2 separate regions of the Homo sapiens genome follow, and region 1 is linked to region 2. The links come from fine-mapping of genetic effects on gene expression. A gene starts in region 2. The other region holds a variant in brackets. All regions are shown on one strand. Distances are from middle to middle.

Region 1 (5,376 bases), 6.6 kb after region 2:
TAGTTATACTATTATAAAATGACTCCTTAAGATAAAGTTTTAAATAAATTATATTCTGGATAGGGCTGATTTACATTTTGAAATTTTCTAAAAATCAGCTTGGTTTTAAAATGGATTTTTTTTTCCATTTCCGGAAAACCTATCAGGTTTAATCAAATACTTTAAAAATGATTATCATATATTGCAATCTTTTTTTTTTTTTTTTTTTTTAGAGATGGAGTCTCACTCTTTTGCCCAGGCCAGACTGCAGTGGCGCTATCTCGGCTCACTGCAAGCTCGGCCTCCTGGGTTCATGCCATTCTCCTGCCTCAGCCTCCCCAGTAGCTGGGACTACAGGTGCCCGCCACCGTGCCTGGCTAATTTTTTATATTTTTTAATAGAGACGGGGTTTCACCATGTTAGCCAGGATGGTCTCGATCTCCTGACCTCGTGATCCGCCCACCTCGGCCTCCCAAAGTGCTGGGATTACAGGCACTAGCCACTGCACCTGGCCCATGCCTGGCCTATTTTTATAGAGACAGGGTCTCACTGTGTTGCCCAGGCTGGTCTCAGACTCCTGGACTCAAGTGATCCACCCACCTTGGCCTCCCAAACTGCTGGCATTACAACTGTGAGCCACTGTGCCTGGCCTATTTTTATAGAGATGGGGGGGGTCTTGCCATGTTGCCAAGGCTGGTCTTGAACTGCTGGCTTCAAGCAATCTTCCAGCTTTGGCCTCCCAACGTGCTGGGATTACAGGCGTGAGCTACTGTGTGTGGTCTAAAGTCTATTGATAACATTTTGAGTGATACTTATTAAAAAATAAAAAAGTTTTATAGGTATTTGTGTTAGCTTTTTTATTGTTGTATAACAAAATACCGCAAGCATAATGGCTGAAAATAACACATATCTCACAGCTGGGCACAGTTGAGCTGGGTCCTCTTCTTAGGGTTTCACAGCACTATAATCCAGGTGTCAGCTGGGGCTGTAGTGTGTCTCATCAAAGGGCCAACTGGGGAAAAAGACTGACTTCCAAGCTCCTTCAGCGTGTTTGGCAGAATTCATCTTTAACTGTAGGACTGAAGTCTGTTTCCTTGATGACCTTTGGCTCTGAGTTGGGAGCTGCTCTCACCTAGGGACTGCCTGAAGCTCCTTGTTGCCTGGCTTATCTGTAGACTGTCTTACAACATGGCAGCTTGCTTCTTTAAAGCCAGCAAGGGCTTCTCCAGTCTGCTAAGATGGTATCTTATATAGAACATAACACAGGAGTGACATCCCATCACTTTTGCTATATTCTTTTGGTTAGAAACAAGTCAGGTCTCCCATCCCAGCACTTTGGGAGGCCGAGGCAGACAGATCACTTGAGGTCAACCGTTTGAGACTAGCCTGGCCAACATGGTGAAACCCCATCTCTACTAAACATGTACAAAAAAAATTAGCCAGGCGTGGTGGCTAATCCCACCAACTGTAATCCCAGCTACTAGGGAGGCTGAGGCAGGATAATCACTTGAACCCGGGAGGTGGAGGCTGCAGTGAACTGAGATCGCGCCACTGCACTCCAGCCTGGGTGACAAAGTGAGATTCCATCTCAACAACAACAACAACAAGAAACAAGTCAGGTCTTGCCTACACTCAAAACGAGGGGAGTGTATAAGGTGTAACATGGGGAATGTGTGGAGATCACGGGACCCACTTTAGAATTCTGCCTACTATAGTATGCTAATGATCTCTAATAGATGTCTAATAATCAGCAGAGAATATTTTCAGTTTTATCTTCATTGAGTACCTTTTTTAGATTGATAACTAATGAAACATTATTTTTACATTAATTACATTTCCTTAGCTTTCTTGTGAGGGTTTAGAAGTCAGTCTATACATTTATCCTGGGCTGTATTTTTTTGTGGGCTTTCTAGGGTGGGATGTGAGTACACAGAGTTTACACATACCTCACTGAAACTGTTTTTTTCTTTGCGGCACTGTAAGGGCTGTGGTAATGAAGGCTGGGAGCGATGGCTCACACCTGTAATCCTAGCACTCTGGGAGGCCAAGGCAGGTAGATCACTTGAGGCCAAGAGTTCGAGACCAGCCTGGCCAACATTGTGAAACCCCCGTCTCTACTAAAAATACAAAAATTAACTGGGCATGGTGGTGCATGCCTGTAATCCCAGTTACTCAGGAGGCTGAGGCAGGAGAATAGCTTGAATCAGGGAGTTGGAGGTTGCAGTGAGCCAAGATCGCGCCACTGCACTCCATCCTGGCAACAGAGCGAGACTCCATCTCAGAAAAGCAAAGAAGTCTTCCGTTTGCACAAAGGGAAAGTAAAAAATTGTTTAAATTAACCAGAAGTCTGTAACGAGGTTAAGTAAGGGCTAAATGTTGTCGTTTCTTGTTTATCATTAGGAACATGTGATGATGGTAGTGCTGGTGTTGAGGGTGACTGGGCTCAGAAATGATCATAGGTGCGCCTAGGTTTTGAGGCCTAATTTTCTAGTTTCTAGAAATGAGGTTAGAAACAAGAGTTCTGATCAAAATCTCCCTTGGCTATTACTGTTAATATGGTTTGCATCTAGAATGACACAGAAACTCATTACCCATATCTTTTCTATGGCAGTGAGGAAAACAGAGTAAGTTCATGAACATAGGGATTTAGCCTTGGGTAACGAGGAAGGGTATGAAGCAAGGTTGCTGACATTTCTAAATGTCTGGAATCTGATTTGAGGCTGGGCACAGTGGCTTATACCTGTAATTCCAGCACTTTGGGAGGCCCAGGTGGGAGGATTGCTCAAGCCCAGCAGTTTGAAACCAGCCTGGGCAACATGGCAAGACACCATCTCTGCAAAAAATACAAAACATCAGCCAGGCATGGTGGTGCGCACCTATGATCCCAGCTACTGAAGAGGCTGAGGTGGGAGGATCCCTTGAACCCAGGAAGTTGAGGCTGCAGTGAGTCATGTTCACACCACTGCAGTCCAGCCTGGGTCACAGAGCGAGACGCTGTCTCAAACAATAAATAATCAACCCGATTGTGGCCGATGAAAAATTTGGCAGTTTGATTTGGAGCTCATGGAAACTTTCTCAAGTTCATGATTAATCTTTTCCCATATTTTGAAGTTCTAGGACAAGGAGACTGGCTTTCACAGAGGTTCGGGTTGGGTTCAGTTTTCTTCAGAAGAACTTCAGAATGCACTACAACAGGAAAATCATATTCTAGATGGAGTCAAGTCAATCTGTTTGTATACCAGATACATCTATGATATACATGCAGCTACTATCTGATTATGTATCAATTAAATAGATCATAAATGTGGAACGATGGGGACTTTGAGAGATTTGTAACTGAAGCTGCCTTCATGCTTGTTAGAATGCTGGGGTGGAAGAGTTCCCAGTTTTAAAGGAGAAGTACAAGAAGACCTGTAATTGTTAGCAAGATATACAGAACACAGTGCACA[C/T]AGCAGCGCACTTCTCAAGTCAGGTAAGCTGGGGCTGAAATCTTGCCTTTCCTGCTTATTATGCGATCTTGGGCCAGATTGATTTATATTTTATTTTTTAATTTATTTGTTTTCGTTGAGACTGGGCCTTTCTATGCTGCAGGTTAGTTTTGAACTCCTAGCCTCAAGCTGTCCTCTTGCCTCAGCCTCCCACAGTGCTGGGGTTATAGGACTGAGCCACTGTGACTTGCCCAATTTACAATTTTTAATGGAGGGTGAGGGAGTCATAGGAACAACAAAGATGGTAAAGGGAGTTTGAGGAGAAAACAAATAAAAGAACAAGGTGCACATAAAAACTGCCTGAGTTCTTTTCACTGACTCCCTCATAAAAAGGCGATTTTCAGATCGAATGTTTTTGCAGACATTGCCTTTCCTTCCTTACAGTGCTTATTTTTTTCCAGCTCCAGGTTCAAGCTCAAAGGCCTAAAGTTTTGCAAACATCTGGTGAAGAGGAAGATTTTTGAGACTCTCCCAGCCTATTACATAAAGGAAACATAACCGAGAATTTTGTCTAAAGGTTTTCATTTGAAACAAAGCAAGAGCTTCTTTTCCCCACTCCGAATTAAAACACAGCGCAACAGGGGCCACATTTATTTGGCAGGACAGTACCAATATGTGAACATCCTCCTCCTCACTGCCGTTGGGGTGACTTGACTCATAAGCAGCTGTTCTTACACAAAATATTAACCCGAACTGCTAGTGTCACACAGAAGGAAGTGGTCTTGATTGTGTATGTGGGCCAGCATGTTCTACAAATGCTGAAAGGTGGGAGAAGCACAAATACAACCCACTCTTTAAAAAAACTAAATAATTCAAAGTAAAATTTTCTATCCCCGCCCCCTCCCCACCCTTGCCTTCTCCAATAATAAAAAGTAGAATCCAGATTTGGTTTGTATCCTGACCATTCACAAAGTGTCGTGCCACAGCACTTGCATCATTAGGGTTATGGATGATCACAGTTCATTTGCTTTGAAGAGACGTGTGTCTGCTCCTTCCTCCTCTTCTTGCCTTCATGCTCATGTTCTCTGGGGCAGCTGCTGAGGGTCTTTGAGGGCCACCATGCTGTCTGGCTTCTTCCAAAAATGTGTCCAAATCAAAAGAATCTTCCTCAAACTGAACTGGTCCTTCTCAGCCTCTCGGCTTCTCTGTCTATGGTCTGAAAAACTCCTTGTTGGGAACAAATCTAGGGAACAAGAGAAAAGACTATGAACTACTTTATTTTCACTGGTGTAAACACTGAAACAGAGTTGTATGGCTTGATACCTGTTGGTCTTTCTTCTGGCTTCTAGGTCATGACCATACATATCCTTGTCCAGGTTTTTACCAGACCTATAAATACTCTGGGCCATATCTTTATTTACCACCTCTCCAGGCTTGATCGTAAACATTATAAATTTTGTCTTCTCCACCTGCAAATCCACTGTCCATACCCTGTAGAAAAGTGGATGACATTAAATGAAAATATAAACACCAATTATTAAAAGATGAATCTGACAACATTCATGTGAAGAGTAAACTCTTGCTAATTTGTAGCTCAAATTTTCCACAGCCTGAACTGCAAATTGTAAAAAAGTCTTCATTGGACTGGGTGTGGTGATTTAGGCCTGTAATCCCAGCACTTTGGGAGGCCGAAGAGGGCAGATCACTTGAGGTCAGGAGTTCAAGACCAGCCTGGCCAACATGGAGAAAGCCCGGTGGGTCTCCCCACACGCGGAATCGCCCCCGGTCCTTGGGGTTGGGGCTGCCGCCTCTGGCTCCTTCTGGGCCAAGGCCACTGGGTGAGCCAGGTGCTGGCAACACACCCTTTGCTCCTTCAGCTGCCCATGTAGCTGTGCCTGCTGCTCCTCCTCGGCACTGACTAAAGCTGAGTTTAAAAAGGCCACCTGCAGGCAAGACATATGCATTCTTG
Region 2 (5,376 bases):
TGTTATTTTATAATCACCATAAAAAAGTTATGTGTAAAGAAGTATCCATGGAACTCAGCAACTGGTTCAGTTAAGTATCAGGGTGAAGGAGAGGCAAAGATGATTCTGATATTTCAAGCTGAATAGCAGTGCACATTAACAAAAATTAAGTCAGAAGTTAGTTAGGAGAGGACGTTATTGCCTGGAAATCCACTTTGGCCATGCTGAATCACCCAGTGGGCTCAAGTTTCTCTTCTTGGTCTCCTCTACTTGATCTCACCTGAACTAGTGGCTTTAACTAGCACCTCTTTTAAATTCTTCAGACATTGTTGCAAGTCTTTTATGTGCATGTCACTGTGCAAGCACTAAGTATTAAAGAGAAAGAAGCCGGGAGTGGTAGCTCAAGCCTATAATCCCAGCACTTTGGGAGGCTGGGACGGGCAGATTACCTGAGGTCAGGAGTTTGAGACCAGCCTGGCCAACATGGTGAAACCCTATCTCTACTAAAAATACAAACATTAGCCAGGTGGGCTAGCGTGCGCCTGTAATCCCAACTACTGGGGAGGCTGAGGCAGAAGAATCGCCTGAACCCGGGAGGTGGAGGTTGCAGTTAGCCAAGATCGCGCCACTGCACTCCAGCCTGGGCAACGGAGTGAGACTGTGTCTCAAAAAAATAAATAAAATAAAATAGAAATAAAATCTGGTCTAAGATGCCCTGCAGTTCTCATCTTGATCCATCTTCCTTCCAGTCCTCACAATGCAGCTGCAGTTCTACATTTCTATCTGCTGGATGTTACAAGCTATATTTCTTACGGGCATCTTAACTTCCCCCATCCAAACCCAAACAAATCAACTTCCCCCATCAAACCTGTTCCTTTTTCTAATTATTTTTCTCATTTCTATTCAATGTTAATACAACAAATATTTATTAAGCACATGGTGTGTGCTTGACTCTAAGCTAGGTACTCACTAGGTAGTGTTGAACAAAACAAACATGATCCCTGCCCACCTTCCAGTCTAATGAGGAATACAGACATAAAATGAATAACTAAATGATTACACAAGTAATCCATTAAAATCACAGTGGCAGTATTATTTTCCTAATAACCCAGGTTAAAAATCTCACTCATTTTTGCTTCTCCTTCAACATTTATAACCAATCAGTAAGTCTTTGAGTTTTCTTTCACCATAACTTAAAAATCCATCACTTTCCTTCATTCCCACTGCTACCAATTTTGTGTGGGCCTTTATTTCTTGTCTGATCTACGGTCTCCTAACTGGCCTTCTTGTTGCCCATTTACGCCACCACACACATCACTATTAGAATCATCAAGTATTGTCTCATGCCACAAATGGAAAAAAAATTTTTTTCAGTGGCTACTGTGTAACTGCTGATGGGTGTCTTCCCTTACATGCCTTGTCTTTCCCTGGTTTGCCAACTTTGCTCCTACCAATCTATCTGCCTGGAGCATGCTTAGTCTCCAAAGAAAATATGCTTATTACTCACACTCACTTCCTTGAAGCTCCTAGATCATCACCCCAACTAGAAATGATCACTTACTGTGAACTCTTCGGGTACACTAGCTCTATCACTCATTTACCACCTGTGTGTGATAATTTGTGCTTCATACAGCTCCTACTGGAGTGGTAAGATCCCTAATGGCAAAGATGTCTTAACCATCTTTCCGTCCCTAGGGATGCCTGGCACTAATGGTGTCTCCCTTGCCTGTATGCGGGGTTGGGGGGTGATTTCCATTAACTCTCTGGCCAGGTTCCAAACAGCTCTTACTACTCCCTGGATTCATTCTGGACCTGCTGGGGAAGCGCCAAGGACAATACCAGGGGCCAAGAACAAGATCAAAGGGGCACGGCAAGGAAGAAATGTGCATCCAATGAGTGCTAAACTGTAGATGCGATAAAGGCGTCAGGCAAGCACTGACCTGCTCCAGCAGATAGATGAGCTGGTCTCGAGCCAGCCTCTTCAGCATGGAGAAGTCAGGCAGCTCAGGGGCGTCCGGCCGATGGGGAAAAGCCATGGCAGCGGTCACCTGCGCCGCGGGGTGGAAGGACGCCCTTCGTTCTGAGAAGGCCGGCCGCAGCCCAGGGAAGCGCAAGGGGGGCTATCCTTCAGGCCTGGGCACCGACTTCCAGAGACCCCAGATGGGCCCTCGCTCCTCAGCAGCACTCCAGGAATGAATGGCCACCTCCAGGCAAGAGAGCTACTACCTCGGAGCAGCCTTGTCTCAGACCTGCAGCCACCGTGTCTCGACCCTCCCTCCCTGATCCACTCTGCCCGTCAGCAGGATTCCGGTCTACACCCCGCAGAGACTCCGCAGCGTACGAGGAGAACCCCGCCTTCTACCAGAAAAAGAAGCGACTTCCTAGATCTCCCGGAAGTCCCTTTCGCTCCCAGCGCTTCGCGTACCAGGAAGGGGACGGCGTCCTGAAAGGGACATTTGAAAAACGGAGGCAACGCGTCTATTAATTAGGTGGCGGCGCCTGGGGTCGCAGCACTCCAGAGGCTGAGGTGGGAGAATCGCTCGAGTCAGGGAGGCGGAGGTTGCAGTGAACTGCGATCGCGCTACTGCACCCCAGCCTGGGCAACAAAGCTAGACCTTGCCTCAAAAAAAAAAAAAAAAAAAAAAAAAAAGACATAATGAATGCATCAGGCTAGCTAACAATACCTCAACTCTGATCAATCATACCATCATATCATTTCCTGGTGAGATGCATAGGAAATACAGAGCATCACCTATTGCCAAAAATTGAACCTAATCAAGCCTCAAGATCTAACTACCAGTTTATAGGCTATATAGAGATTAGCAGGAATATGTTAAGACACCAAAGGTATGAAATCAACCATATCCAAAATGTAGGAAATTATATGGGACAAATGATCTGTCGTCTTCAAAAAAATGGCAAAGTGGGAAATGTGGGAGGGGAAAACACTTCAGAATAAAAGAGATTTAAGAGATGTATCAACAAAATGTTTCAATGTGTGGATCTTTTTTGGATAATAATTCAAAGATAACTGATTTAAGGAATTACTAAAACTTTTCGGGTATTGTATTTCTTTTCTTCTCTTTTTTTTCCTGACAGAGTCTCGCCCTTTTGCCTAGTGGAGGAGCTCGGCTCACTGCAAGCTCCGCGCCACAACCCCCCTGCCGCCCCAGGTTCAAGAGATTCTCCTGCCTCAGTCTCCCGAGTAGACTGGGATTACAGGCGAGTGCCACCATGCCCGGCTAATTTTTGTATTTTTGGTAGAGACGGGGTTTCATTATGTTGGCCAGGCTGATCTCGAACTCCTGACCTCAAGTGATCCGCCTGCCTTGGCCTCCCAAAGTGCTGGGATTACAGGCGTGAGCCACAACGTTGGGCCAGGTATTGTATTTCTATGTTATTATTATTTTTTGTATTTCTATGTCATACAGGCTTGTATTTCTGTTAAAAACAAGTCCTTATCTCTTTGAGATACATACTGAAGTTTTTACAGGTGAAATAATTTGGCCAGGAGTAATGGTTCATGTCTCTAATTCCCACCACTTTGGGAGGTCCAGGTCGGGGTCGGGGGGTTGCTTGAGGCCAGGAGTTTGAGATAAGATTGGTCAACTACAACACATAAAAAATAGCCAGGCATGGTGGTGGGCACCTTTAATCTCGATACTTGGGAGGCTGAGGCAGGAGGATCACTTGAGCCCAGGAGTTTGAGGCTGCAGTGCGCTACGATCATGCTACAGCACCCCAGCCTGGGCAACAGAGTGAGACACCGTTTGTTTTTTCTTTTCTTTTTTTTTTTTTGAGACAAGGTCTGGCTTTATCTATCACCCAGGCTGGAGTGCAGTGATATGTTCTGTCTCTTTTTTTTTTGAGATGGAGTTTCGCTCTTGTTGCTCAGGCTGGAGTGCAATGGCACGATCTCAGCTCACTGCAACCTCCACCTCCCAGGTTCAAGCGTTTCTCCTGCTGCAGCCTCCTGAGTAGCTGGGATTACAGGCATGTGCCACGCACCCAGCTAATTTTGTATTTTTAGTAGAGACAGAGTTTCTCCATGTTGGTCAGGCTGGTCTTGAACTCCTGACCTCAGGTGATCTTCCCGCCTCAGTCTCCCAAAATGCTGGGATTGTAGGCATGAGCCGCCATGCCTGGCCCGATCTGTCTCTTAAAAAATAAAAAAAAAAACTAAAATATGTTTGGGATTTGCTTTAAAATAACCCAGGGGGAGATGTAGGAACATTCAGGAAAAAGATTGGGCCAGGCACGGTGGCTCACGCCTGTGAACCCAGACCGAGGCAGGTGGATTGCTTGAGCCCAGGAGTTCAAGACCAGCCTAGGCAACACAGTAAGACCCCCATGTCTATAAAAAAATTAAAAAATGATTGGCCATTTGTTAATTGTTAAAGCTGATGGGTACATGGGGGTTTATTGCATTTTAGTATTCTACGTCTTTATTTAGAGATGGAGTGTTGCTCTGTTGCCCAGGTTGGAGTGCAGAGGTATAGTCATAGCTCACAGCAGCTTTGAGCTCCTGGGCTCAAGTGATCCTCCCACCTCAGCCCCCCAGATAGCTGGAATACAGGCACATGCCACTTTGCTGAACTTCTCCCTACGTTTCTATGTTTGAAAAGCTGTATAATACAAGGTTAAGCAAAAAACAAAAAACACGCTATGCTCACACTGGACTTTGAGAGCTCATATGGTATTTTATGCTGAGCCTTTCTTCCCACTAACGCCCTTAGATTGAATCTTGGCTGCAGTGGGAGATGGAGGTTGCCCTAAAGTGGTGGGATTTACTCCCACTGCTGCTTAAAGAAGATGAGTGAGGCATTACATTACACTCCTTCTTTTCCCCCCCGGAATCTCACTCTGTTGCCCAGGCTGAAGGGCAGTGGTGCTGTCTTGGCTAACTGCAACCTCCGCCTCCCAGGCTCATGCGATTCTCCTGCCTCAGACTCTGGAGCAGCTGGAGTTACAGGCATGCGCCAGCACTCCCAGCTAATTTTTGTAGTTTTGGTAGAGATGAGGTTTCTCCATGTTGGCCAGGCTGGTCTCGAATCCTGACCTCAGGTGATCCACCTGCCTCAGCCTCCCAAAGTGCTGGGCTTACAGGCGTGAGCCACCGCGCCCAGCCTTATTTTTATTTTTATCCCATGACTTTTTTTATCCCATAACTTTTTCTTCCTAAGTTTTTTCCATAACTTTTTTTTTTTTTTTGAGATGGAGTCTTGCTCTGTCACCCAGGCTGGAGTGCAATGGTGCATCTGGGCTCACTACAACCTCCACCTCCCGGGTTCAAGCAATTCTGCTGCCTCAGCCTCCTGAGTAGCTGGGACTACAGGCACGCACCACCATGCCCAGCTAATTTTTTGTATTTTTAGTAGAGACAGGGTTTTGCCATGT

Which allele goes with the higher level. Positions count from the first base shown, and alleles are read on the strand shown. Sizes are in standard deviations (SD) of each study's normalised expression.
With allele C in place of T in region 1, the expression in esophagus muscle of the gene that starts at base 2,388 in region 2 is higher (small effect, 0.35 SD a copy in GTEx).

The links. PIP is the estimated chance that this variant, and not a neighbour inherited with it, causes the effect.
Region 1: its variant is fine-mapped to the expression of VPS33B-DT in esophagus muscle (GTEx, PIP above 0.99).

What each region holds. Positions count from the first base shown.
Region 1 is chr15:91,026,791-91,032,166 of GRCh38, forward strand. VPS33B-DT (VPS33B divergent transcript) reads left to right here. Exons shown (of 4, transcript NR_110104.1): 3 at 3,091-3,451; 4 at 3,869-4,349. It also overlaps the pseudogene LOC390638. Among named protein-coding and RNA genes, the nearest start is that of VPS33B-DT, 6.9 kb to the left of the region's middle. The variant C/T (reference allele first, on the strand shown) is at 3,429.
Region 2 is chr15:91,020,235-91,025,610 of GRCh38, forward strand. VPS33B-DT (VPS33B divergent transcript) reads left to right here and starts at 2,388. Exons shown (of 4, transcript NR_110104.1): 1 at 2,388-2,506; 2 at 3,079-3,737. VPS33B (VPS33B late endosome and lysosome associated) reads right to left here and starts at 2,360. Exons shown (of 23, transcript NM_018668.5): 1 at 1,920-2,360. The coding sequence starts at 2,015. RefSeq lists enhancers at 1,444-2,060, 1,915-2,324.